Homo sapiens: one gene and its partners. The protein of the gene in region 4 purifies or fractionates together with the protein of the main gene of each other region. This does not show direct contact. Each region holds a gene or a part of one and is shown on either strand. Other genes may lie near its edges.

Region 1 (7,029 bases), on a different chromosome or scaffold from region 4:
AAGAAGGTCTCACTATGTTGACCAGGCTGGTCTCGAACTCCTGGCCTCAAGCGATCCTCCCATCTCAGCCTCCCAAAGTGCTGGGTTTACAGGCATAAGCCATCACGCCCAGCCCCTTATGATTTTCTGAATAACATTTTCTCTAGCTTCCTTCATTGCAATACACTATATAATACACAGAACATACAAAATGTGTGTTAATCGACTGTTATCGGTAAGGCTTCCAGTCAACAGTAGGCTATTAGTAATTAAGTTTTGGGGGAGTCAAAAGTTAGATACTCAGATTTTCAGCTGCACAGAGGGTTGGGATCCCAATCCCGGAGTTGTTCAAGGGTCAACTGTATAATGCAAGCCATATATTTAATTTTAAATTTTCTAGGCCCAATGTGGTGGCTCACGCCTGTAATTCCAGCACTTTGGGAGGCCAAAGTGGGAAGATCACTTGAGTCCAGGAGTTCAAGACCAGCCTAGGCAACACAGGGAAATGCCCCTATCTCTACAAAAAATTTGAAAAATTAGCCAGACATGGTGGCACTATGATTGTAGTCCCAGCTACCAAGAAGGCTGAGGCAGGAGGATTGCTTGAGCACAGGAGGTCAAGGGAGGTAAGCCAAGATCAGGCCACTGCATTCCAGCCTGGATAACAGGGTAAGATTTCGTCTCAAAAAATTAATTAATTAACTTTCTAAGAGATACATTAAAAAGGGGATAACGTGAGGCCGGGCGCAGTGGCTCACGCCTATAATTCCAGCATTTTGGGAGGCCGAGGCAGGTGGATCACAAGGTCAGGAGATCAAGACCATCCTGGCTAACACGATGAAACCCCATCTCTACTAAAAATACAAAAAATTAGCTGTGCGCAGTGGCAGGCACCTGTAGTCCCAGCTACTCAGGAGGCTGAGGCAGGAGAATGGCAAGAACCCGGGAGGCGGAGCTTGCAGTGAGCCAAGATCGCGCCACTGCACTCCAGCCTGGGCAAGAGTGTGAGACTCCGTCTCAAAAATAAAAATTAAAAAATAAAAAATAAAAAGGTAACGTGAAAGAGGTGAAATTAATTTTAATATTGTAGTTTGACCCACTATATCCAAAATAATACCATTTCAGCAGGTAATTGATATAAAATTAATGGGCTACTTTTTGACTTTTAAGATATAATTGATACAACTAAAATTTACTCTTAAAAATTCAGTAGTTTCTAGTATATTCACAAAATTCTGCAACCATTACCACTAAATTTCAGAACATTTCAGCATCCCAAAAAGAAACCTTGAACCAATTAGCAGTCACTTCCCATTCTCTCCTTCCCCCAGCCCTAAGCAACAACCAACCTAATTTCTGTTTCACAGGATTTGCCTATTCTGGATATTTCATTAAAATGAAATAATATAATAAGTGGCATTTTGTGTCTGGCTTCTATTATGTTTTCAAGGCTTATCCATGGTGTAGTATGAATCAGTACTTCATTCCTTTTTTTAAAATTCAAAACTTTTTAGCCTTTAATGTTTTTAATATATACAAAATGCCGTACTGTATGTTTCTCCCTTTAAGACTTCATTCCTTTTCATGGCTGAATATTATTCCATTGTACACATACAGTCAGCACTTTGCATCTGCAGATTCAACCAACTGCAGATCAAAACTACACTTTAAAACCCCATAACAATAAAAAATAATACAAATTAAGAAATACAGTATAACAACTATTTATATAGCATTTATATTGTATTCAGTATTATATGTAATCTAGAGATGATTTAAAGTATATAGGAGGATGTGCATAGGTCATATGCAAATACTATGCCATTTTATATAAGAGACTTTGGTATCTGTGGTTTTGGTATTCATGGGGGTCCTGGGACCAATCCTCTGAGGCTACTGAGAGATGGCTGCAACACATTTTGCTTATCCATTCATCAGTTGATGGATATTTGGTTGTTTCCATTTTTTGGCTATCATAAATAATGTGACTGTGAATATTCATGTACAAGTCTTTGTGCAGATAAATGTTTTCATTTTGGGGGAACTACATATCAAGGAGTGGAATTCCTGGGTCGTATGCAACTCTATGCTTACCATTTTAAGGAACTTCCAAACTGTTTTTTGAAATAGCTGAAGCATTTTACAATCCCATCATCAATGTTTAGGGGTTCCACTTCACATCCCCGTCAGCACTTGTTATTGTCTATCTTTCCTATTTTAGCCATTATAGTGGGTATGAAAGTATATGCCATTTGGGGTTTTGATGCTTTTTTCTTAACATTTTAAAAAATTGTAGTAAAATATATACACCACAAATTTTTCCATTTTGACCCTTTTTTTTTTTTTGAGACGGAGTCTCACTCTGTTGCCCAGGCTGGAGTGCAGTGATGTGATCTCCACTCAGTGCAAGCTCCGTCTGCAGGGTTCACGTCATTCTCCTGCCTCAGCCTCCCAAGTAGCTGAGACTACAGGCACACGCCACAGCGCCCGGGTAATTTTTTGTATTTTTAGCAGAGATGGGGTTTCACCGTGTTAGCCAGGATGGTCTTGATCTCCTGACCTCGTGATCCGCCCGCCTTGGCCTCCCCAAGTGCTGGAATTACAGGCGTGAGCCACCGCGCCCAGACAGCTATTTTGACCATTTTTAAATGTACAATTTAGTGGCATTAATTTACAATATTGTGCAACCATCTTCACTGTTTCCAACTCTCAAACAGAAACTATTATGGCCAGGCATGGTGGCTCATGCCTATAATCCCAGCACACTGGGAGGCCAAGGCAGGTGGATCACTTGAGGCCAGGAGTTTGAGACCAAACTGGTCAACATGGTGAAACTCCGTCTCTACTAAAAATACAAAAATTAGCCTGGCATGGTGGTGCACGCCTGTTGTCCCAGCTACTCAGAAGGCTGAGGCAGTGAACTGCTTGAAACTGGGAGGTGGGGGCTACAGTGAGGCAAGATTGTGCCACTGCACTCCAGCCTGGGCAACAGAGTGAAACTCCAGCCTGGGCGACAGAGCGAAACTCTTGTCTCTTAAAAAAAAAAAAGAAAGAAACTCGGCTGGGCGCAGTGGCTCACATCTATAATCCCAGCACTTTAGGAGGCTGAGGTGGGCGGATCACATGAGGTCAGGAGTTCGAGGCCAGCCTGGCCAATAGGGTGAAACCATGTCACTACTAAAAATACAAAAATTAGTCAGGCGAGGTGGCACATGCCTGTAAATCCCAGCCACTTGGGAAGCTGAGACAGGAGAATCGCCTGAACCTGGGAAGCGGAGGTTGCAGTGAGCCGAGATTGCGCCACTGAACTCCAGCCTGGGCAAAAGAGCAAGACTCTGTCTCAAAAAGAAAAGAAAAGAAAAAAGTCTATTACCCTTAAGCACTAACTTCCCATACCGCCCATCCTTTGGCAGCTTCTACCTACCTTCAAATGTCTATATGAATTTATTCACTCTAGATAAGTGGAATGCTACAGTATCTGTCCTTTTGCATCTGACTTGTTTCACTCCACATAATACATACTGGATTTTAAAGGTTCATCTGTGTTGTAGCATGTATCAGAACTTCATTCCCTTTCATGGTTTTATAATATTTCATTGTATGTCCATGCTACATTTTGTTTCTCCATTCTCACGGTGGTTTTTTTTTTTCCCTTATCAAGCATGGTTGTGGAGGAGACAATGTTAATCAGCATAACAATAACGCACAACCCTCGCACCAACTGTCTGTGGTTTTGAGATGTGCCTTAATAACTAATGTTGAGCATCTTTTCATGTGCTTACTGGCCATTTCTGAATCTTTTTTTGAGACATGGTCTCTCTCTGTCACATAGGCTGGAGTGTAGTGGTGTGATCTTTGCTTACTTCAACCTTGAGTCCTTGGGCTCAGGTGATTCTCCCACCTCAGCCTCCCTAGTAGCTGGGACTACATGTGCACACCCATCACACTCAGCTAATTTTTTGTATTTTTAGTAGAGATGGGGTTTCACCATGTTGGCTAGGCTGGTCTCGAACTCCTGACCTCAGGTGACCCACCTGCCTCGGCCTCCCAAAGTGCTGGGATTACAGGCGTTACTGTCTTCGAAATCCAGTATTTATTTTGTGTTTACAGCATATTTCAATTTTGACTACCCACATTTCAAGTGCTACACAGCTACATGGGGCTCATGGGTTACCACATCACTGTATCTTTAGACCTTTAACTGGTTTCTGAATTTTTAATTTGGATGACATTTTGCATTGTTTTTAGCTGCCTTCCCTTCACCTTCCCCCAGTTAATTCTCAGGTAACTATTCCTACTCTGTAACAGTTATAACAGCAAAAAATGGCAAAATATAGCAGGTTACAAAATACTATGTAATGGTGTTTACAAATTTTTATGTATTATATTTTTCCAAATATATAATCATAATGCTACTGCAAGTGATCACAATCAGCATGTGACTGTGAGGGCTTGTAGACAGTAAGTTATAATGTTTGTCGCCTAGAAGCACTATTTGTATAATTTACTCTATATGCTGAATGCCTCTCTTTAATTCTCAAGGATACTGAATAAATGATTATTGGTGCTAAGTATTCTGCTGCTCCCACTTCAGAATCTCCCTAGTGATTTTAATCCATGAGAGCAATTTTCTTAGCTTAGTTTGTCAGTTCCTATAGTTTCCTGACTAAGCAGTTATTCAAAAACAGTTCAGAAAGTGTCCTTTCAAATTGTTCTTTTGTTTGTATTTTTACAGTAACTCCACTCAATATAACTACCACTTGGAAATCCTACTATCACCCTCCCTTGACACATGGCCAGTTCAACAGATCTGGACTTCAGCAAGCAATGCTGCAATTCTAAGACTCAATTTACAGGTCTTAATGCTAATGACTATCCTGTCATTTAATATTAATCAAGAAAGAAGTGGATATGAGAATGACAGTATATTTAAGAGTCATAACACATCACAAACTGGATATCACTTCCACTCTAAAGAAAGAATAATACATCATTACTATTTGCCAAAACAAAACTAGCCTTGATTCAGCCTTCTTGATTCAGTTTCCTAATTGCAATAATCACATCATTCACTACGTTAAGTAGCCAACTTCAGTGAATTATCAATGAAACCACTATGTGGATTTTCCCAGATGTAGACAGATACAATCTTTTTATTTTTTTTATTTTTTATTTTTTTTGAGACGGAGTCTCGCTCTGTCGCCCAGGCTGGAGTGCAGTGGCGGGATCTCGGCTCACTGCAAGCTCCGCCTCCTGGGTTCACGCCATTCTCCTGCCTCAGCCTCCCAAGTAGCTGGGACTACAGGCGCCCGCCACTACGCCCGGCTAATTTTTTGTATTTTTAATAGAGACGGGGTTTCACCGTTTTAGCCGGGATGGTCTCGATCTCCTGACCTCGTGATCCGCCCGCCTCGGCCTCCCAAAGTGCTGGGATTACAGGCGTGAGCCACCGCGCCCGGCCGACAGATACAATCTTAATACTGCTTCAATTAATTAACATAAAAATGTGACATCCTGAATGAAACCAGTCTTCCAAATAAGTACTATTCTCTTAGGTATCAAATACTCCTTATTTTGGAGCATTTGTCCTTTTTGAAACAAAAAACATCAGATATTGATTTTGCAACTAGGGCCTCACTTGTCTTCAAGCCTTAGAAGTCTATCAATATAATGACCACTTCAAGGTCTATGATTCTACAGAATTGGCCTAACCCAATATCCCCAGTGAGTCAGTGTCAAGTAAAAAGTAATTATAACAGATTAAATGGGAATACAGATTAAGGGAAAAGCAATGCATAAACAACCCAGATGTAAAGACCATTTTGGAGACAACTAAGGAAAAGTATACTGGGTATCAGATGATATGAAGAAATTTTTTAAATAAGAAAAAGTACAGTAGGCCAGGCACAGTGGTTCACACCTGTAATCCCAGCACTTTGGGAGACTGAGGTGGGCAGATTACTTGAGGTCAGGAGTTTGAGACCAGGCTTGCCAATATAGCAAAACCCCATCTCTACTAAAAATATAAAAATTAGCCCGGCATGATAGCGCATGCCTGTAATCTCAGCCACTTGGGAGGTTGATGCATGAGAATCTCCTGAATCCGGAGACAGAGGTTGCAGCGAACCGAGATCATACCACTGCACTCCAGCCTGGACAACGGAGTAAGAATCCATCTCAAAAAAAAAAAAGAGCAAAACAAAAAACTGCTACTGCCTATAGTCTTACCTTGACAAAAACTAAATAAGGAGAAAAACAACATGAATATTTAAAAGCTCAAAAGTAACATTTCTACTTAAACTAGGCATCAGAGTAATCAATAGTTCTTCCTATCAAAAGAAATAATCTGAACAAAAACCTAAACAGGCGTATCTCAATCATTACACAGTAGATATCAGCACAATGTGACAGATGTTAATCCGTAATAGCCAGTGGATCATGAAGTGAGTTCTAGCCCATGTAATTGCCCAATTATGAAAAATGATGCTTATCATAAGAAATCCTAAAATAGCACTGCAGTAACAACTTCACAACAAGCAACTCAAAATGAAATAGCAAAATGAACAGTGAACTAAAAACCCTAAAAACTTGTCTAACATTGTCTTGAGAGAGATTTAGGCTATAATAATTTTATTAGTTACTCTATTTCATAAATCCTCACCTCTTTTGGAGTTTTATGAGCTGCACAAAGAAAAATCCATTGTTCAGTTGCTGTCATTTGAGTGCAAGTATCTGGATGGCATTCACTCTGTTAAAAATAATTATATTTCTTAATATGTAAAATAATAATGAAAAAGCTTATCATTTAGGTTACTATATTTCCATAATAAATTCTAGAAGAAAGTTAGAAATGTGGATACGTTTTTGTAAGCACATTAAGTTATAAAAACAGAGAAAAAAAAATCAGAACTTTCAATTATAACTTTGACTTAAAGAAAATATTACCTGAAGTTTGACAGCAAGTCCATTTAGCTCAAGGCAGAACTGCCTGAAAATGCAAATACATAAATAAAAAGTCATATCTATTCTTCACAGCAATTTTTAGAATAT
Region 2 (7,029 bases), on a different chromosome or scaffold from region 4:
TCAGAACTTAGGCAGGCATAATATATGTACTGGGCTTAAAAGAAAAAGGCATCACCCACATAATAGTACCATAAATATAAGTGAAAATTAACTGTGCAATCTAATTTAACCTTTGTGTGGACAGAAATCATCCTGTACTATGGTTATTTTCATATGAACTAGAAAATGCTCACTTAAATATCCTTTTAAAAACAACAAACTGATGCTTATTAGTGATAATTATGAAGAACAAAAATATATAAATAGTTTATAGGACAATTTATTACCATGGCAAAAATATGCTGATTTAAGTTATATTCATACCTGTTGATCAGATATTTAATCACATGACAATCAGCTTTATTTTTTGGCTCTCCAAATCCAAGCAGATAGTATGGGATTTTAGTTGAAGATGTAAAACATGAAGCCAGACTAACTCCTTCAACATTACCAAACACCTATCCTTGGGTAAATGATCTTGCTTTAAATTTCTAACCATGTGAAATAAGGGTAAAATTGCCTCTTCTACCTAAAAGAGAATGTAAATACTATACACCAAGAGGTACCTCTGTTGCTGTACATTGCCTGTAAATGCTTCAAACACAGGGTCTCAAATGTGATAATCATTGAGCTGCCTGGAATATCATACCAACTTGGTAGAAGAGTCAATACTTTTACAGGTTTCATTTAAAAGACTTTACTTAAATTTTCTGTTTTAAGAAGGTATGACTTATTTACACCTCCCCACCAATAGTCATTTTTAGAATATGCATGTTTTTTTTTAAAAAAAAAAGCTTTTTGAAGCTTGATAATTTACAAAAGCTGAATATTGAGAATGACTTTGAAAGACCTGTATGTTTCATGACTGTAGAGTCAACTAAAGATCAAAATGTGAAAGGTATTCATCCTCGTAACTTAAGAAATAGGGATACTTAAAAGCAAAACGGTGTCTCAACATTTACTAGAATACAGGTGAAACTATAGTATTAAAAGTTATTCCTTACAAAATAATCCTTTCAAAATATAAAATGATAAACGCCATCACAAAATAGTTTAATAGCTTCTTCCAAATCTTCAGTGTTGCAAAGATCCAAAAGGCACATGGAGCTCATGGGTTAAGCATTGTTAATCTTGACGTAGGTTTGGTGGGGCTCTCTGGGTCCATATGAAACAGAAGCCAATAATAAGTTTCTTAGGGGGATTCGTCTGCTGAACACCTATAAAATTTTTAAAAAATTTAAACCAATGTACAACTATGCATGTTTATATTTCTCCTTTGTATGAACTCTGCAATGAAGAAACTGATTCCACAAAAGGGATACATTGTTTCTATTGAATCTTATCATGTAGATGTTAAAATATAAACAAGTTAAAAAATCCCTTCTGCATCTGATTTCACAACTTCCGATTGATTTGTTTTCAAATGGGGGGTTTTCATTAAAATATAAGGGATTTTAAGAGGGGGTTAGGTTTGCGAGTACAAGTGAGCCTTATCAGATAGAAAGATCTTTGAGAGTGTGTGATTTCACAGGTCACAGAGTTTGTTCCATCTCGATCCCAGTGGCATCACAAACACAAAGAAATATAAAGATGCACTGAGAAGAGATATAGCAGGGTCAAGGCTAAAATCAGTATCACCTTATAGCTTGCTTGAGCTAAGGAGTGTATATGTGTGCATGCATACAAAAGTCTTGTTGAAAATTTTTTAAAAAATTAAATGTAAGAACTTTTTTGAATGCGAACAAAATCAAATGAATATTTCAAGAGACAACATAGAAACTGAAGTTGAACATAAGAGCCCTTTTTTGGTCTGGATTGAGTCCCTCTACCTTTTCCTTAACTTTTCATATGGAGATCAAACGTAGGAACTTTAGCACTGGAAACTATGCAACTAGTGGTGTTTTGTTAAATTCTGAGGGTAGTGGCAAGAAAGAAAGCATTCCACAATTATATTAATAAGAGCTCAAATGAGAATATGCTCAGTGACCTTTTGTCTATAATCCTACTAGTGGAGAAAGAAAAACAGGTCATTTCATGCAGTGGAAAACTACCTTGTCATGCCTAAAGATAATCATTCTAAAAGCTAATGTTTAAGATAGACAACAGACAAAAACTATTTTTAAGTATACAACTATGTATTGAAAGGTGACTTTGTTAGGAATAATTGGAATGGTTGAATCAAAGGAATTACATTGCATCATAAATTAACATACAACAGAAAATGCAAAATAATTTTTAAAATGACATTTCCAACTTACTTTTGAAATTTTTCAATTAGTTTCTTCACCATTTTATCTGTGATGCCGGGACAGGCGGCTTCAGCCACAGCAATACTTTTCTCGAGTTCTTCAATCGCCTGATTCCTGCTAGCGTTATTCTCGTCCTGCTGTTTAAGCTGAGAAAGAATAATAGTTAAAACATTTAAAATATTATACTACTTAACACAGATATCCAAGGCTAATTAATCTGTACTTACTTCAGCAAATGCAGGTGTGATTATCATAGACAAACAACTCAGGGTTTGCACAAGATCTTGCTCCTTTGAACAAATAATATAGATTATACACATGAAATTAAAATAAGTGTCATGATTTTCTTATTCTTTAACAAATACGAACTAATTTGAATCCCCTACTGAAAACAAAAGATTGTATGCAAGGCAAGTCTCTAAGCTTTCTTCCTATCATTCATTCTCATTCATCATCCAGAAGTCCTCTAACTTCTGGGATTACAATAGATACCTATGATTCCCTGGGCTTATGTATCTCCAGGTGAAATGCACTTAAAAAATACCAATATGGCCACTTAAATAACTTCTATTAACTTTTCTTAATTAGCTCAAAACTAATGACAAATGAAGCATACTACAAACACAGTGAGGCAGACAGGCATTTAGGGGTATTCAATCCTAACAATTTTAGGCCATTATCATCTCACTACATGGTTTGAAAAACTGTATGAAGAGTAAGTAATTGTCTCCATATACATACTGCCCCATTCTGTACTTTCTTTGGATCAGGCTTCTTTCGTACGGTGGTAAAGCTCCATTCAGGATGAGTATTGTTTTCCCTGCTGGTAGATTCCCTAAAGAGATTGCCAAAGATACCTCTATAAGTGCCCAAATGATTCAGCTTGGCAAAAATACCAAATCAATGCAGGTAGAATCTAAAGGGATAATTGTCCCAATGTTTAAAAACTCATGATGCAAAAAAGCATCTGATCTCAGCTTCAGGCGAATACTACATTTTACTACAGAGTAGTAGTGGAGTGGTTCTCAACTCTGTGTGTGCTTCATTGAGACCTCCTACCATAGATAAATACCTGTCCCTCACTACTCCCCACCTATTGAATCAGGATCTCCAGTGGTGTGGCTTGTGATTGCTTTAAGGTTCCATGAGTGACTCTTATGGGAAGCTAAGGCTAACACCCATTAGAATAGGGCACAAATTATTCTGATATTTTTTATCCCTTTCCAACATTGGACAATTTCTCATAAATGGAAGAATCTCAGAGTAGTATCTAAAGAAATTTGGTGTTGCCTTTGTGCCAGTTCAGCTGGTGGAGGACTAAATTCTGGCATAGCATACAGACTTTCCTAGTCTAAATTAATTGACAGACTTAGAGGCTGAATTTTTAATGTAAACGCTGCTGTTATAAAACCCTACAACTTTTTCAAGAAATAAAAATCATGCATAAATGAATATTTAAATGTATCAGTCTGATCTTGGTTTGGTACATGGCCAAGAGGTGGGAAAAGCCTGGAGGTCAGTTCTTTAGAGGGATTTTGCAGGTTGCCATCAAAGTATGAGAAAACACAGCTCCTTATTACTTTGAGCAAACTAATATAACACCTTTAATTGAATCCTGTTCCAAAATTTTGTAATATACTCAAGTATCCACTAGGGGTTAGACCAAGACCATTTAAAACTAGAGCTATTCACTTCCAAGAAAAACATGTTTCCAACTCCATTGTATTCCACAGACTGTGATTGAAAAAGATTTTTACAGTTTCTAAGGTGAAATTTCAAAATATGGTTTATATTTTATGCTAGAACAAGCACACTGGAGCATAGCTAAAAGATATACAATATTTAAATAGGCTGCCTACATAAAAATTAAATAATTTGTACATACGAATCAGAGCCCTCGGAATCAGATTCATCATCACTGTGTCCTTCTGCCTTCCATCTCTTAAAACGATCTATCAGTTCAGTCAGATAAGAAGTCTTCTTTGAATTTTTTACAATGAATTTGTGTTTCAGAAGTTCTTTTGCTGTAGGACGCTAAGGATAAAAAGATCAAGGCTGCATATGACAATTGTTGAACTCTTATGATTACAAGGAATGGTAAAAAAAATCATTTGAATTATTAAGCTGAAAGGTATAAAGGTATGTCTGTAGACATAAGAACAACTAAAATGCTGTAGGAAAATAGCTAATTCTATTATTGAAGTGGCTCAAGGCAACCACATTGAATCTACTACTTTGGTGTCCCAATTTGTTAAAGCCCAACGGGCAGCAGGTGGCTTACCCACCAGCAAACTGGCAGGCAGGGCCTTCTCAAAAGCAGAGAGACACATGACAGTATTTAGAAAGTAAACATTTAAAAACATTTCAAAGTAGTGTTCTAAAATACTTTAATCACATTTACTGTAAATTTGAAAAAACCTGATGAAAACTTGCAAGGCTGTAATTTTGTTATTATCTACACATATAATCCCTTCTCCATCACAAATCAATGTCTATTGCATCTAAATGCAAACACCAGGTGCTGTGGAGGATGTTCCGCCTTCATTTTATTAACATGAGAATGTTTATCATCAACTTAAAAATAGTTATATCAAGTTTGGACTGCTCTTGTGTATTTCTCGTCTCAAAAAGTCACAAGGCAGCTTTATTTCAACAACAGTAAAACAACTGTAATAGAATCCACCAAGTAAATGAATGGAGCTCACTAGCCTAGGAAAAGTATACAACTTCACATTGAAGTTTCTAAACACCAAATAAAAATAGTTAAACCTGGCCAGGCACAGTGGCTCATGCCTGTAATCCCAGCACTTTGGGAGGCTGAGGAGGGCAGATCACTAGAGGTCAGGAGTTCGAGACAAGCCTTGCCAACATGGTGAAACCCCATCTCTACTAAAAATACAAAAATTAGCCAGGCATGGTGGCGGGTGCCTGTAATCCCAGCTACTTGGGAGGCTGAGGCAGGAGAATCGCTTGAACCTGGAGGTTGCAGTGAGCCAAAATCATGCCACTGCACTCCAACCTGGGCAACAGAGCAAGGCTCCATCTCAAAAAAAAAAAATAGTTAAACCCAAATATAACTTTTCATGAAAAATGAAAACAGTTGAACAAAAATCATTGTATTTATACATACACTTTAATAATGACATAATATAAAGTTAACTTTATTTCTCAAATTTATTTCCCCCTGAAAGAGGAAATAATGAATAGAATAAGGAGGAAGCTGAGGATCAAGAAAAAAACGAAGGGTAAGGAGAAAAAGAATGAAGAATCTGGTTAAGAACTCAATAGAAATAGCAATACAGAAGGACGAACCAGGTTCCTGGATGGATCTTAGACAATTCTCACATACACTGTATTCCCTACTGCAGGAAAAGCTGCCTTTGCTATAAGTAGATCTAATAATAGAAAACAAATAGTAATAATAGCAATATATACTCACAAATGATGGATCTTTGTTCAGGCAAGCATCAATAAACTCCTTAAAAGACTTAGTAAAGTCTCCAACAAGAGTTGGAGGATTGTTTTTGGGAATAAGAAACAGAACTCTCATTGGATGCATATCGGAGTTAGGTGGCTCTCCCTTGGCTAGTTCAATAGCAGTAATTCCCAATGACCAAATGTCAGCCTAACGTAAAAGGAAAAAGAAAATAATATATATATATATATATATATATATATATATATATATATATGTGTATGTATGTATATCACCTTGAAACTCCATTCCAATATACTACCACAAAATAGTCTGTGGAACCTAATGGCTATACAGTACTTGTCTCTCAAGAAAATGTGGTGTTAATAAATTTTTATTAGTAGAATTCATTTATGTAAAACATAATGAATTCCATACTTTGTGCCAGGTACCCTTCTCGGAATGGAGGATTTCAGTAGTGTATAAGCCAGACAAAAATCCCTGCTCTTAAGGGGTTTACATTCTAATAAGAAAGACAATAAATAAATAAATAATATGGTGCCAGACGGTGCTAACTTCTGTGAAGAAAATAACAAAGCATAGTAAGAGAATAATGAATCATGGGGGGAAGGGTGTTGCAAATTTACATAAGATGGCCAGGGAAGACTTCCCTGCGTAGGTGATATTTAAGCAAAGACCTGATTGTGGGAAGAAGGTTTTTTCAGACAGAGGGAAGGGCATGCAAAGGTCCTGAGGCCAGGGTGTACTTGCTATGTTTGAGGAACAACCATGAGGCCACTGTGGATGAATAATCTAGAAGAGAGTGGTAGGAGATAAGACTGGAAAGGCAGATAATGGCCAGATTGTGTAGAGCTTTATATGTCACAGAAAGGACTTAGGATTTTATTCCACGTGGGATGAAAAGCCATTGAAGTGAATAGGGTCCAAATATTAGTTAGCTGTGAGGGAATTTATGATTAAGCAGCAAAATATGACATAACTCTAGCTTAAGAAACACTTGTGAAACAAGGAAAAATAAGGCAGTGTATTAACTAGGATAGTGTGCCATATATAATTTATTAACAAGCCCAAAACAGTTTGTACAGGTAATACTTTACTTTTGAGTCATAAGCTGACTGTTGAATAACTTCAGGAGCCATCCAAAATGGAGTTCCCACAAAGGTATTTCTTTTAATCTGTGTATCTGTCAGCTGACCAGCAACTCCAAAATCAGCAAGTTTAACATCTCCTTGTTCTGAGAGCAAGACATTGGCAGCTAGGAGGAAAAAAAGAAAAGCAAAAAAAAACTCAGCTTGCTCAGAATGCTTCTATTTTTCTCAGGTTCATATTAGACTTTTGTATACCTTTTATGTCTCGGTGAATTTT
Region 3 (7,029 bases), on a different chromosome or scaffold from region 4:
AGTGGTGATCTCTGCTCAGTAAAACCTCCACCTCCCAGGTTCGAGCGATTCTCCTGCCTCAGCCTACTGAGTTGCTGAGACTACAAGCGCACGCCAACATGCCCAGCTAATTTTTGTATTTTGTGGTAGAGACGGAGTTTCACCATGTTGGCCAGGCTGGTCTCGAACTCCTGACCTCAAGTGATCTGCCCGCCTCAGCCTCCGAAAATCCTCAGATTACAGGCATGAACTACTGCATCTGGCCTGAATGGTACTATTATATTCATAGTCTCACCAATACAATTATTAAATAGCTATTATTCAAGTAATACATCTTTTCTAATACAAAACATTGAGAAAATTACAAGGTTTGAGGACCGATAAATAATATTTAACAATAATGATGATGTTAATTAAATACCAATTCAGTAAAACTTACATGTGGGCCCTAAATGTGTAGATAGGCTCTACATCTAAAGAGGCACTCCTAAAAGAGGGGGAAAAAGGGTAGGGGAAGAGAAGGCAATTAAATAACTATGAATCACTGGTTGATATTAAATAGTCATTAGATCAAATGTGTGCATTAAAGACATGCAACAATAATGAGGAATAATTACTTATATTAGCAAAATTGGAAGAAATACACCAGGCTAACACTAAAATACTTGCTTTTTGGCAGGAACTGTTTTTTGCAGGTTCCAAAGTTTCAGGGTATGGTCCTCAGAAGCAGTAACCAGCACAGGTTCTACAGGATGAAAAGCTAATGCCCGTACTCCATCAAAATGGCTACGTAGTGTATACTTGGGATTCCATGTCTTTCGAAAGGCATCTTTATTAGCAGGCAACTAAAAGGAAAGAGCACAATATTTAGTGGTAAAAGTAGTAAACTGGAAGGCATGTGGAGTGTTTGTTCGTTTCTTTTTGGTGTGTTTAACACATATATTTAAAACTGTTGGCTAAAATGTCCAGTGGAAATTTAATGTACCTTTAAAACTTTCTAAAAAAACTTTATCATTTAATAATAACTCAGAATAATTTCATTCGCCTTACAAATAGCCTAGGTCAAATGAAGAGTTCCTTAATCTGTTTTTACCTATTAAGCTAAACCCAAAGCTCCCATTAAATGTCAGATGAGAACAAAATAACTACCATTGCTGCAATACTTTACATGAAAAATAATTACATAAGTTATTACAAATATCCAACGGTACAGTATTAACAGTAAAGTTGTCATTTAGAAAACGTATTAGCATGTGAAATTATTAAAGGCAGCAAGTTAAGGTACTTTCTGAAAGTCTGAACTAAAGACCCTTTAAGAATATTTTTATCCCATTTTCATAATTCTTGATATTGACAGAGGTTTATCTTTTTACCTTCACATTTCTCCATCTGTAAAGATAGGCTGTGAAACCACTTCTAAAGCAGTCAAAAGTTTACTGGAATTTAGTCACTTATATACTTAAAAAAATATATTAATGAGAATAATCCAGCCCACCAAAGGCTGTCTCTAAGCATGCTAATGTTAAGTATAAAACGTGGAAAAAAGAAACTCATTATAAAAAGAAAAAAAAATTGCTGAAAAACTGCAATTAACATAAAGATCTAACAAGTATAGTTAACTCTCAATTGAAATATTAATGACTAGAAAAAATTAAATCCAAGACAAGTTTCACCTCTAACACTGGACTCCCCACTCCCCAACCCTTCCATCCACTCCCCAATCCTCTAATGAAGGAGTTAAGTATTCAGGAAATGATGCAAGCTAACTTTAAAATGTTCAGAAACTTTAAAATATTTCCTTAAGAAAATAAAAGTTCAAAAATAAAACATGCTTTTTAAGAAGTACTCTGAAGGCAAATATATGATTCAGGTTATTTTTTTTCTTGTTAACACCAAAATATGGCTTAATTTGAGATAATTGAGAGTTGACTACTCAAGATGTATTTACTGACCAATATATTAATCATCTCAAACTTCTAGTTAATCCACCAAAATACCTAAAAAAAAAATTTAAATACCACAAAGAGAGTAGTTATAAAAGAAAAACATGTCACTTCAAATCAACACATTGACACAAACTTATCTTTTCCATGCACCTTGATATTAATTCTGTTTTATAAGTGATTCCAAAAAATAAGGAGCCTTCTATTAAATCATTAAAAAATTAAAAATAAAACTGCACTTACATCATAACTATAGTCTGCATCATTTGTTACCGTCAAGTCTGCAAGGTCTCCAAGGCCCAGTACACTTAACAAAACATCATCAGAACCCATAATAAATGACTTGCCTCCTCCAGATGGAAACGTTATTGGTTCAGCTATAAAGAACAAAACCGCTTCTTAAATGCTGAAAAATCATACAGTACAAGACAATATTGTGGGGAAAATTTAAGCACTTAACAGTTACAATATTCAGTAATATAATTAATTTTTATTTTCCCACTTCTACTCAAAAAATCCTGTTACTAAGCAGTGTTAAACAAATGTGTTGGAACTGTGGTGTATTAACTGTCCACAAATAAAATGTGCACTAGATATATTATTCTGGGGTGGAAGCTAGGGCACAAAAGCTTTGTCTGTCTAAATCTCTTATCACTTCAGTACAATTATAACTATAGTTTACATGTTAAATAAGAAATAGGACAAATTTTGATTAAATAATGGAGTTAAATATCAGATTTTTGCATTCATGAGGGGAAACCTCTACCATGGACCTCAAGGACCTCAAAGTAGTCATATAGTATTTTTTAAATGTTAATAGGTTGTCACCAAGTCCTTTTGCTTTCTAAAGAAGTACTAGGCATCCTAGTCCCTGATAAAAACTAGTACAAACATTGAAATGTAAATGGTTTACAGTCAGCTATATACTATATCAGTTCACTAGAATGAAGCTTTAATTGTTCAGATTCCTTTAGTAACAGCAATGGTCTAGGAAAAAATTCTTCCACCAACAATGTCAGTTTCCTTTCTATAAAAGGTTAATCCACGTGGTCTTCAGAATGTCTTCCAGCTTTATTTATTTATTTATTTAGAGACACAGTCTTGCTCTGTCGCCCAGGCTGGAGTGCAGTGGTGCGATCTCGGTTCACTGCAACCTCCACCTCCTAGGTTCAAGCAATTCTCCTGTCTCGGTCTCCCAAGTAGCTGGGATTACAGGCGCCCGCCACCACGCCCGGCTAATTTTTCTGTTTTTAGTAGAGATGGGCTTTCACCATGTTGGCCAGGCTGGTCTTGACTCCTGACCTCAAGTGATCCACCTGCCTCGGCCTCCCAAAGTGCTGGGATTACAGGCGTGAGCCACCGCGCCCAGCCTGTCTTCCAGCTTTAAAGCTTTGACTATGACTTTTATTTTAATGTCCCATTCTAGTTACCATGACACTCTAAAATGAAGCAAGTAATCTTGACCACAGAGCTTTAATTTCTGATCAGATTTGCCATTTCAATTTCAAACTAAACTCAGGTTGAGCTTCACTTAGTTTTCTCAACTATATCATGTGCATTATTACAGCTTTTCATGTTAATATTAACAGTTCCAATTATTTAAAATGCGTTTTCCTTTCTATACATACTACTGACCAATTAAACTCTGCCATAATTGAATGACTATTATCTAAATATTTTGTTGTAACAGTCATAGTTTAAGCAACAACCTTCAATATCATTTCAAATATGCTTTGAAAGCAAAATTTTAACATTAAGATAACAAGGGAGAAATACTCAAATCATAATATAAAACTCAATATATCAAAACACACTTAAAATTCATGAGCAAATTTAAAAGGGACACATTATACAAAAAATCAAGCTGATTATCAATTTTAAAAAAATTCCCATGAAAAATGATATAAATATGCTACAGGAAACACAACAGGTGTAATGAAACTTGACAGTCATCACTAAACTACTGGAAATAATTCTGAGAAGACACAATTCATATATATACTATGGCAAAATAAAATTCAACTGTACTTAGAATATCTTGTTATTTTATTATTTTATCCTATCAAAATAAGCTATATAATCTGACTCAAATAGGGCTCTAAAATGCAGCTCTGATTCAGTTACTTGATCTAAAATGAATCTGAAAGCACCTGACAGAAAATATATAGAGATATTAAGTAGTATTTAATCTTTCAATGATGACACTTATTGAATCTGAATAATCTGTAGCATTGATCTTTTGATCTTTTCCTACCAATTATTAGTATGCAGTTATTGGCAATACCAGAAGCAGCTAAAAACTATAAAATCAATAATTTAAACTTATGTTTAAGGATAATTATATAAAAGTCATTATATAATATTTACTCAAAGCATTTTTCTCTAGACAAAGAAATATTTTTACTTTAAGCTCAGGGAATTTGTTTCTAAGAGAAGTCAGAACAAAATGCCACAGTTCCTCCCACTCACAATTATACAAACATTCACTGACACAAATCTCAAAAGCCCAATAAAATAACTTTAACGTAACAAATGATTTTGCAAGACTATCTCTGATCAGCCAGACCAATTTAGGAGCATGTGAAGGGAAGTGTCTGGACATTAGTTTTACTCGAGTTTTGGCTTAATTGTACTTAACAAAAAATTAGTATTATACTCATTTCTAATTAATCATATGACCACATTTCTGTCCTTTTTCTCTATATACACACATATATTTTATGACATATTTATGTACCTATTGCAAGCTATTCTGCTTAATCACTATTTACACATATATGTGCAAAAATTCTTTTACACTACTACCTCTGCTTTCCATATTACCCATCACTGTGGCATATGGTAATCACAGCAGCTACTCATCTGTTTGCCCTTATTTCCCTGCAGAGGGAATTAATTTCTATCCTATTCATTTTATTAATGGTAATATAATTACCCATAATATAAAAATGTCATTAGTAATTCAAAGAAAAATGTAATTATTTAAACAAGTAGTTTTTTTGGTTTTTTTTTTTTTTGAAGTCTTGCTCTGTCGCCCTGGCTGGAGTGCAGTGGCGCGATCTCGGCTCACTGCAAGCTCTGCCTCCCAGGTTCACGCCATTCTCCTGCCTCAACCTCCTGAATAGCTGGGACTACAGGCGCCCGCCACCACGCCCAGCTAATTTTTTTGTATTTTTAGTAGAGACAGGGTTTCACCGTGTTAGCCAGGATGGTCTCGATCTCCTGACCTCGTGATCCACCAGTCTCGGCCTCCCAAAGTGCTGGGATTACAGGTGTGAGCCACCGCGCCCGGCCTAAAAAAAGTAGTTTTAATATCTTCTTTTTTTTTCTAATAGAGACAGAGTTTGCTATGTTGCCCAGGCTGGTCTTGAATTCCTGGGCTCAAGTGATCCTCCTGCCTTGGGCTCCCAAAGTGCTGGAATTACAGGCATGAGCTACTATGCCTGCCCTAGTTTTTAATTTAATGATGGAAATTTAGGAGGCCTAAGAGATTTCATCAAGTAAGATAACAATACTAGTATAACGGGTCTATAAAATACAAGGTCTTTTTCAGACTTTTGTAACTAATCTTCCTTTTGATGGACACTTATGATGAAGGAAACCTGTAGCTCGCATATTGAACTCTTTTTCCCAAGAACTTAGTCCAGGTAACAGATTCCATTTATACCAGTGGCAACATGGTAGGTCTCAAGTCTTTAGCAGCAATAGTCTAGAAGATTGTAATGTTGAAGTTCCACTCCTAGAAAACAGACATTTGTTCTTTATAAAATGAGGTAGGACATGGACTTCAAAAGTAAAGAAGGAAGTTGGGGACTGCCACTGAAAATAAGGAGACTGTATACTCCAAAGCTGCCTTCTTAGCTTGAAGTCAAACTCACACCTCTTTAAATAACAAATTCCAGGAAGATCGATACTTCAAAAACTGTAATGAAGTTCACACTTATCAAATCTCTCCCCTCGCCCTCCTACCAGCATCAAGAAACAGATCACTGACCTATATTCTTTCTTTAAAACACACACATAACACATAAACAAACACACATAGAGAGTTCTAAGTTGGTTTTTGTGTAGAGTGTGCCTTGACTGGCTTTTTCCGTTAAGTCATTGGTTTGAAACATTTAAAAGGGTCCACATTGCTAACGTGGCTTTGCCTTAAATTGCAAAACCTGCACTTTAAATGTACATTAATTACAAAAATTTTAGCAAGTTGTACTATGCATATTTGGCAAAACAGACCAAAAACGAAGCAAAATCACCACTAAATGCATAAAATTAAAAAAAAAAAAAGGAGTTGCTATGTGTATTTTAGAAAATACTTCTAAAGTAAAACAGGAATATATCTCAATAGTGGAAATGAGATCTGAAAAAATTAACAGACACTATTTTATTTTTCATTCATTTTGTTTTGAATGATTTTGTTACTTTAGTGATTTTTTTTAAGGTGAGTGAAGTAAATGGTAAATTATGAGAGGGAAAAAATGCAAAATTATTTAACTGTAAGGAAACTGTGCCACTAGGGAAATCTTAAAAGGGAACAAGATGTATTTAAAATTTTTTGACTGGGACATCAAACAAATCCCCTTTACAGAGCAAAGGCAATAACATCAATTAAACTTAATACATATGCCAAATTACTGTATCTCATATGTCACAATAATCTTTGGTTAAAAATTCAGATTTAATACTTATAAATATCTAGACTTAGAGTTATACATGATTCAAGTATACCCATATATCTTCGGCTAAAATCAATTTTGGAAAAAATGTTTAAGTAGTACTTTCATTTCCTACACATTTCTGGTTTAGGCAAATTTTATAAAATTCATTACTAGGTAGCGTATACTTGCTACCAAGTTAAAGAATAATGATGCTGCCTTATTCTCAAATGATTAATTTAGGTAACAGTTACATATATTTTTTGAAGTAATATATATTTAATGTAACAGATTGGGCACTGTGGCTCACACCTGTAATCCCAGCGCCTTGGGAGCCAAGGTAGGCAGATCACTTGAGGTCAGGAGTTCGAGACCAGCCTGGCCAACATGGTAATATTCTGTCTCTACTAAAAATACAAAAAATTGGCCGGGGAATGGTGGTGTGCGCCTAT
Region 4 (7,029 bases):
CTCCGGGCATCCAGCGAAGCTAAGGGAGTAAGCAGGATCAAAGTAGGAGACAAGGTCAGGCTCCAGGTTCACTGACACCAAATGTAGTTCTAATAAGATCGTTCTTTAGCTCTTTAGAGTTTTCAAAGAACTTTCTTTCATATATAATTTTATATGATTTCCACAACAACTCATCATAGGAAGCTCAAAGATGTTACATTACTGAGATAGGTAATACAATTAGCAAACATGGGGGCTTAGAATTTAACTGAAGTCCTCGGTTTTCAGTACTTTTCATGATACTTTACCTCAGAGATTAATAATTTTAAAGCATTAAACCTTTTTTAAAAATATCACCAATTCCATCACAGAGCTGTGTTTTTACAAAAATAGACCTTTCTGATCCCTGTGCTGTGATTTAAAGCATCTGGTTATTGTTCTCTTTTTCTGTAGTTAACTTCAATAGACTTTAAAAATTCTCTATTGTTGTAATTTAGATGTCTTTATAAAGCCATTTACGTCTATTTTCTCATTTTAATGTGTCTTTAAAATATTTCTTATCACAACACTTTTTGAAAATGTGGCGTTTTTGCTAACCCGAGTTATGTAATTGTTAGAAAATTAATAAAAATCTCACAAAAAGCATTTCCTTGGTGAAAAGAAAATTCTGTATATTAATCAGGGTTTTCCTGTGAATTTCTTTCAGCTGGAAATGGAGAAGCTTCAGCTACAAGCCCTTGAGCAAGAGCACAAGAAGCTGGCTGCCCGCCTTGAGGAAGAGCGTGGCAAGAACAAGCAGGTGGTCCTGATGCTGGTCAAAGAGTGCAAGCAGCTCTCAGGCAAAGTCATAGAGGAGGCCCAGAAGCTCGAAGACGTAATGGCCAAACTGGAAGAGGAAAAGAAAAAGACGAATGAATTAGAAGAGGAACTCTCCGCTGAGAAACGAAGAAGCACAGAAATGGAAGCTCAGATGGAAAAACAACTCTCTGAGTTTGACACTGAGCGGGAACAGCTTCGTGCCAAGCTGAACCGGGAAGAAGCACACACCACTGACCTCAAAGAGGAGATAGACAAGATGAGGAAAATGATTGAGCAACTGAAAAGGGGAAGTGACAGCAAACCAAGCCTCTCTCTTCCACGGAAGACAAAAGATAGGCGTTTGGTTTCCATATCTGTGGGAACAGAAGGAACTGTGACAAGGTCTGTTGCATGCCAGACAGACCTAGTGACAGAAAATGCTGACCACATGAAAAAGTTGCCTTTAACCATGCCTGTAAAACCTTCCACAGGGAGTCCCCTAGTTTCTGCAAATGCAAAAGGGAGCGTGTGCACCAGTGCCACCATGGCCAGACCAGGTATTGACAGGCAGGCTTCCTATGGTGACTTGATTGGCGCTTCTGTACCCGCTTTCCCACCTCCAAGTGCAAACAAAATTGAGGAAAATGGACCAAGCACTGGCTCAACACCAGATCCAACCAGTAGCACACCCCCACTTCCCAGTAACGCTGCCCCTCCCACCGCTCAAACACCAGGCATAGCTCCTCAGAACTCGCAAGCTCCACCTATGCACAGTTTACATTCACCATGTGCCAACACCTCTTTGCATCCAGGTCTAAACCCACGAATCCAAGCAGCTAGATTTAGATTTCAGGGCAATGCTAACGACCCAGACCAAAATGGAAATACTACCCAAAGTCCTCCGTCAAGAGATGTCTCGCCTACAAGTCGTGACAACCTAGTGGCCAAACAACTAGCTCGGAATACTGTGACCCAAGCACTGTCAAGATTTACAAGCCCTCAAGCAGGTGCTCCCTCAAGGCCTGGAGTGCCCCCAACAGGGGATGTTGGCACCCACCCTCCAGTTGGTCGGACCAGTTTAAAGACTCATGGTGTAGCACGAGTTGACAGAGGAAATCCTCCTCCTATCCCTCCAAAAAAGCCAGGGCTCTCCCAAACTCCTTCTCCACCACACCCCCAACTCAAGGTTATTATAGACAGCAGCAGGGCCTCGAACACAGGGGCCAAAGTTGATAACAAAACTGTGGCTTCGACTCCTTCCAGTTTGCCACAAGGGAACAGGGTGATCAATGAGGAGAACCTTCCTAAGTCATCCTCCCCTCAGCTGCCACCAAAACCATCCATAGATTTAACTGTGGCACCTGCAGGCTGTGCCGTTTCAGCCCTGGCCACGTCTCAGGTGGGTGCCTGGCCTGCTGCAACCCCCGGACTGAACCAACCTGCATGTTCAGACAGTTCCCTTGTCATTCCTACCACCATTGCCTTTTGCTCTTCCATAAACCCCGTTAGTGCCTCATCCTGTAGACCAGGTGCCTCAGACAGCCTCCTGGTAACAGCATCAGGTAAAGGGATTGAAATGTTATACGCTTTTTAAAGAATATGGCCTCTCTTCTCACTTGCCTTGATTTTCTTCACATTGCCTTGAAACTTTTTTTTTAAATTTGATGCTTCCCCCCACCCCCATTTCTTTTCTTTCTCTCTCTTTTTTTGTATTTTTTTTAAAGGCTCCAGGGTATGGTGATTCATCTTGCTATATGAATTGCGGTTTCGCTATGCTAAGTGCTTTCTTCATTTAAGATAACCTGAAAGTAGTGGCTTAAAGCACATGGAGACCATTAATTTAGAGAGACTAAAATATTTACATGGGAGAAAAGAGTATTCCTTCTTATTAAATATTTATCTCGCAAGACCTCAGTGGGTCATGATCAGACAGTACGTGTTCAATTCTGTTCCTTCTGAGATGACATTTTTAAAGACCTTTCAAGTAATTATTAACACTATGTTGGATTACCAAATTGACTAGATTTGTTCCGTAATTGGTATATTTTAAGTTCTAATATCAGTTTGGTGTTTTCGGTTTTTTTTTTTTTTACCTTCAGAAATGGAGTGTGAATATTTATAAATCTGTTCTAAGTTTAGTTTATTTCAAAAGCCATGTACCCTATTTAGTGCTGCCATCTTCCAACACTCGGGCACAGATGGTTAACATAGCATGTGGGCTATGTCACAGAAGGTTTCCACTGCAGGTGTGGCTTATGAAGTCACTGAATCTGGGACTCTTGAACAAAGAAGAGGTGGATTTTTCCCTTTTGTTATACAGTGCTAGAGAAAGCATTGCTTTTTACTGACATGACTGGATTAGTTATTTACTAAGCAAATGTGGCTCTAAAGTAATGTTACCAAAAATACATAATTGTAAATGGCAGAGACTGGATTCCAAACACATCTGACTAACTGCAAAGTCCATGCTGTTTTCAATTCCCAATTTTACCCCTCAAAATGTGGATGACAAAGTTCTGTTGACACTTTGAAGAAGTCTCTCCTACCATGGGATCTTAGTGGTTGGTGGAGATTGTTGGTTCAAATGGGAGAGAACTTTTATAATTACAGGAAGGTTTGAACAGTTGTTATATTTAATACTTTGAGGGGAGAGAGAGAAAAGCAAATAGCATCATATTTGCTAATTATCAGGTGATGACAGCAGTACACTAGGATTTATTTGTCCAATTATAAGCTATCAACTTGAAATTAAGGTCTTTGAGAGGCTTTATCCATATTTTGAGGGGCGAAATAGGGAATTGGAAGCAGCATGGACTTGGAAGTTAGATCTATGTTGAAATCTAGTCTCTGCCATTTACAATTGTGCATTTTTGGTGACTTCTTTTGCTACTCATATGGGGGAGGGTGGCTGTTAGGAGGATTGGATCCTATAACCTGTCAGCTTGGTATTGAGCTTAGAATAGCATGAGTAATCAATAAATAGAGGTGATATTACTGCTTCAATGATATTGTTGCTTACAGTATTTTTGAGAATTTGCTATGGAATTGACTTTAGTATTATTTTGAGATGTCTTTACAGGCATTCAGCATTCTATATTTTTGATCCAAAATGGTATTACTGAGTTGAACAGCTTTTCTCGTGGCCTAAAATAATTTTGGCTGTTTCTTACAAATTAAATCCACCCTCAGAGAGGAATTTTGCTACTCAGGAGAATAGAGAATGTACTATAAGATCTTTGGGCAGTCACAAAACACAAGTTCCAGAAATGTGTGGAGCAGTGGCAGTGCTATTGCCATAAATGCATAGACTGTAAAGTAGAAAACACTTCCTAGGATATAGAAGTTTTGTCACTTAAAAAAAATACAAAGCCATCTTTACTTTGAGACCTTGAGGCTTTGCCACTTGTTGCCTTAGTCATTACTGTGGTCCTGGGTTTAGCTGCATGTGCCCTTTGGTTTCGGCAGAGAAGCTTTAAAACCAGGATCTATGACTGAGGAACATTTTGTCAACAGGATTGAAAAGTTAACGGATTAAAATCTGTTAACTTTTAAAGACAGAGATTTACTAATCTATTATCTATTCACCAGGATATCCTGCCCTAGGATTCAGTAAAATTTTACATAAAAGAGCTATAACTCCTCTGAAAAATGCCCTTCACTTATGTCTGGAGAGCAAAAGACAATATAGACCAGAAACCAAAAAAAATACCAGCGACTGAAGATACGGAAATCGGATTCCTTATTTTCTACTCTCTGACTTTTGCAATTTTACCAAAGTATTTTATTTATTTATTCCTCTCAGAACTTCTGAATTACTTTTGGTAGAATAACCAGTTTCTATGTCATTTGCTTAGAAGATGTGGCTTATTAAGGGAGAACGGAGGCACTGGAGGCCTTGAGTCATTCAGCAAGTGTTTACTGAGCACCTAGACTGGGAAATGGAAGTGTGATTACACTTACACAATGGGGGTGTACGACTCTACAACTCAAGTATAAATGTAGTTCAGCTGATCTTTCCAAATAAGATAGAGGATTTCAACTCTGTTTTGCATTTAGATTGCCCCTATTTTCGCCACTGTGACCATTGCAACTAAGAAACACCAGAGCTGCCTCCACCCTGCTTACTAACCTGTCTGTGCCTGGTTGAGCTTGTGCCTCTCCAGGTCATGAGCCCTTTGAAGGGGATTAACCTTCCAAACAGCCACTGATTCCATTGTGATTGCCCAAAGCAAGGCACAGGGACAACACACATCTGTCAAATACCTGGCAGGTGTCTCTTCCAATTTCAGTGATCAAACAAGCACTGAACTAAGTATAGTAAGGCAGGATTAGTCCATTTCTGCCCCTTTCTAAGTATCACCCTAGAGAGCTAATTCCCTCTGAGCCATTAGCTTTTTCATTTAAAAACAAAAGCATTGCTGGCTGCAGTAATCATACCTGTAATCCAAGCACATTGGGAGGCCGAGGCAGGAGGATCACTTGTGCCCAGGCGTTCAAGACCAGCCGGGGCAAAATGGCAAAATCCCATCTTTACAAAAAATATAAAAATTAGCTGGGCATGGTAGTGTGTGCCTGTGGTCCCAGCTACTCAGGAGGCTGAAGTGGGAAGATCACTTGAATTCGGGAAGTCAAGGCTACAGTGAGCCATAATCATGCCACTGTGCACCAGCCTGGGTGACACGGTGAGACCATGTCTCAAAACATTAAACCAAAATTATATAATAATATTCCCGAACAAAAAAAGATTTAAACTTGCATGATAAATTTTCAAACTACCTCTCCCTCCTTGGAGAACTACTGGCCCATGATCTTTCCAACTCTAGAATCCTGTGTTTCCATGTAAGCTTTTATCTATAAAAATTATGACTAAGTTAGAGCCCCAAGGAAAATTGGAATGACAGAAGTTAGCCTTTTAATGAATTGTAGTATAAATTACCCAAACTCTATTTGGCAACCTTTATAGCCAAATGTTAAATTTTTTAATAACATTCTTAATTCTAAATGAACTAGAATTTCTTGTTCCTCCTGAACTTGCCAAATAGACACATTTCAAATGTTAGATGAACAGAAGCCTAAACCAGAAATCACTCCAGGCAACTGAGTTTCCATACCCTTGGAAATTGTTTTTTCTGTTTTTTCTTTTTTTATTTGATACATTTGATTTAATTTGGTTTACACCTTTTCCCTATTGAAACATATCTTTTAAAAATTATCCTCCATGTATGATTGGCTTAAAGGCTAAATCAGAAAACAAGAATGATCTGGGCTATGACATTAACCTTCTCCACCCTCTGAAGCTGATGCCAGAAGCTGTTCTCACTCCTTCCCTCTGCCATTGCATGTCCAGTCATTCCCTTCCTCCTGGCATGTTGTGCAGGATGCTCACCTTACTAATGTTTGCGTATGACACTGCAAAACTGATTGACCTTTTGCTAACATCATTAGAGTAGCTGTATGAATACCGGTCTGTTCTGTCTTAACCACTATTTAACCTCTTAACTAAGTATTACCATTTTTATGATTGTCGGGAATTTCAGATGAACAGTATAGTCTCATGATGAAGTCCTATTTTTCCCATATTTAGGCAGGATTTATTAAAATAAGCTTGTCTATGCTAGACAACATTGGAAATGTTAGTGAAGATATAAAACATATTTACAGTTTTAAAATACTTGGTATTTATAAAGCATTTTTCTTTTGTAAAGATTTTAAAAATATATTGCAGACCTCTAAAAAAATAAGGCAACTGATATATCTTCTGTAGTTCTGTGTAAGAAAACCCTTGAGTGGTCTAAAGATTGAAAACAAATTGAAAAAAAAATTTGTCTTTCGGATAACTTATTAAAAATAGGGTTTCCCAGGAAATTACAGCTGCAATTGAATATTTCCATATAAGGCAGTTGAAAAATATATTTAAACTGTCTCCTCCCCTCAAAAGCCTAGATTTATGGTGAAAAAAGAAAAATGTAAACAAAACCCAAAAGAATAGCAAACCATTTACATATATTGGTATTCATAAAAGAATATCAACAACCAAGACCCCTTGGATGAGATCTAAAGAGAGAATGAAAGAGAGGCTGAGTATGAGCCCCATTCCCTCCTGTTCCACAGAGGACTGTAGTGCGATGCCTTCATATTGCCTGTGTTTGCTTTGCAGTCGAGGTTTTATGCCTTCGTGTTTATAATTTCTCTGTTTATGCATTTCTAATAAGTACTGATTTAATTTTTGTGGGCCTGTTTTTTGTTTGTTTG

Evidence for each region.
Region 1: the proteins of CTTNBP2 (region 4) and MOB4 purify together in Homo sapiens (affinity purification with mass spectrometry; 2 studies listed by BioGRID and IntAct, with this or other methods). This does not show direct contact.
Region 2: the proteins of CTTNBP2 (region 4) and STK26 purify together in Homo sapiens (affinity purification with mass spectrometry; 4 studies listed by BioGRID and IntAct, with this or other methods). This does not show direct contact.
Region 3: the proteins of CTTNBP2 (region 4) and STRN3 purify together in Homo sapiens (affinity purification with mass spectrometry; 4 studies listed by BioGRID and IntAct, with this or other methods). This does not show direct contact.

What each region holds. Positions count from the first base shown.
Region 1 is NC_000002.12:197,540,049-197,547,077, reverse strand, and holds part of MOB4 (MOB-like protein phocein), read right to left. Parts: intron 6,968-7,029; coding exon 6,925-6,967; intron 6,728-6,924; coding exon 6,641-6,727; intron 1-6,640. Other genes in the region: HSPE1-MOB4 protein, read right to left, coding at 6,641-6,727, 6,925-6,967.
Region 2 is NC_000023.11:132,068,302-132,075,330, reverse strand, and holds part of STK26 (serine/threonine-protein kinase 26), read right to left. Parts: coding exon 7,008-7,029; intron 6,920-7,007; coding exon 6,762-6,919; intron 5,854-6,761; coding exon 5,668-5,853; intron 4,263-5,667; coding exon 4,114-4,262; intron 3,064-4,113; coding exon 2,970-3,063; intron 2,519-2,969; coding exon 2,456-2,518; intron 2,375-2,455; coding exon 2,238-2,374; intron 1,197-2,237; coding exon 1,172-1,196; 3' UTR 1-1,171. UniProt on the Homo sapiens protein: Serine/threonine-protein kinase that acts as a mediator of cell growth. Modulates apoptosis. In association with STK24 negatively regulates Golgi reorientation in polarized cell migration upon RHO activation.
Region 3 is NC_000014.9:30,911,359-30,918,387, forward strand, and holds part of STRN3 (striatin-3), read right to left. Parts: intron 2,300-7,029; coding exon 2,166-2,299; intron 825-2,165; coding exon 649-824; intron 467-648; coding exon 419-466; intron 1-418. UniProt on the Homo sapiens protein: Calmodulin-binding scaffolding protein which is the center of the striatin-interacting phosphatase and kinase (STRIPAK) complexes.
Region 4 is NC_000007.14:117,786,438-117,793,466, reverse strand, and holds part of CTTNBP2 (cortactin-binding protein 2), read left to right. Parts: intron 1-685; coding exon 686-2,339; intron 2,340-7,029. UniProt on the Homo sapiens protein: Regulates the dendritic spine distribution of CTTN/cortactin in hippocampal neurons, and thus controls dendritic spinogenesis and dendritic spine maintenance.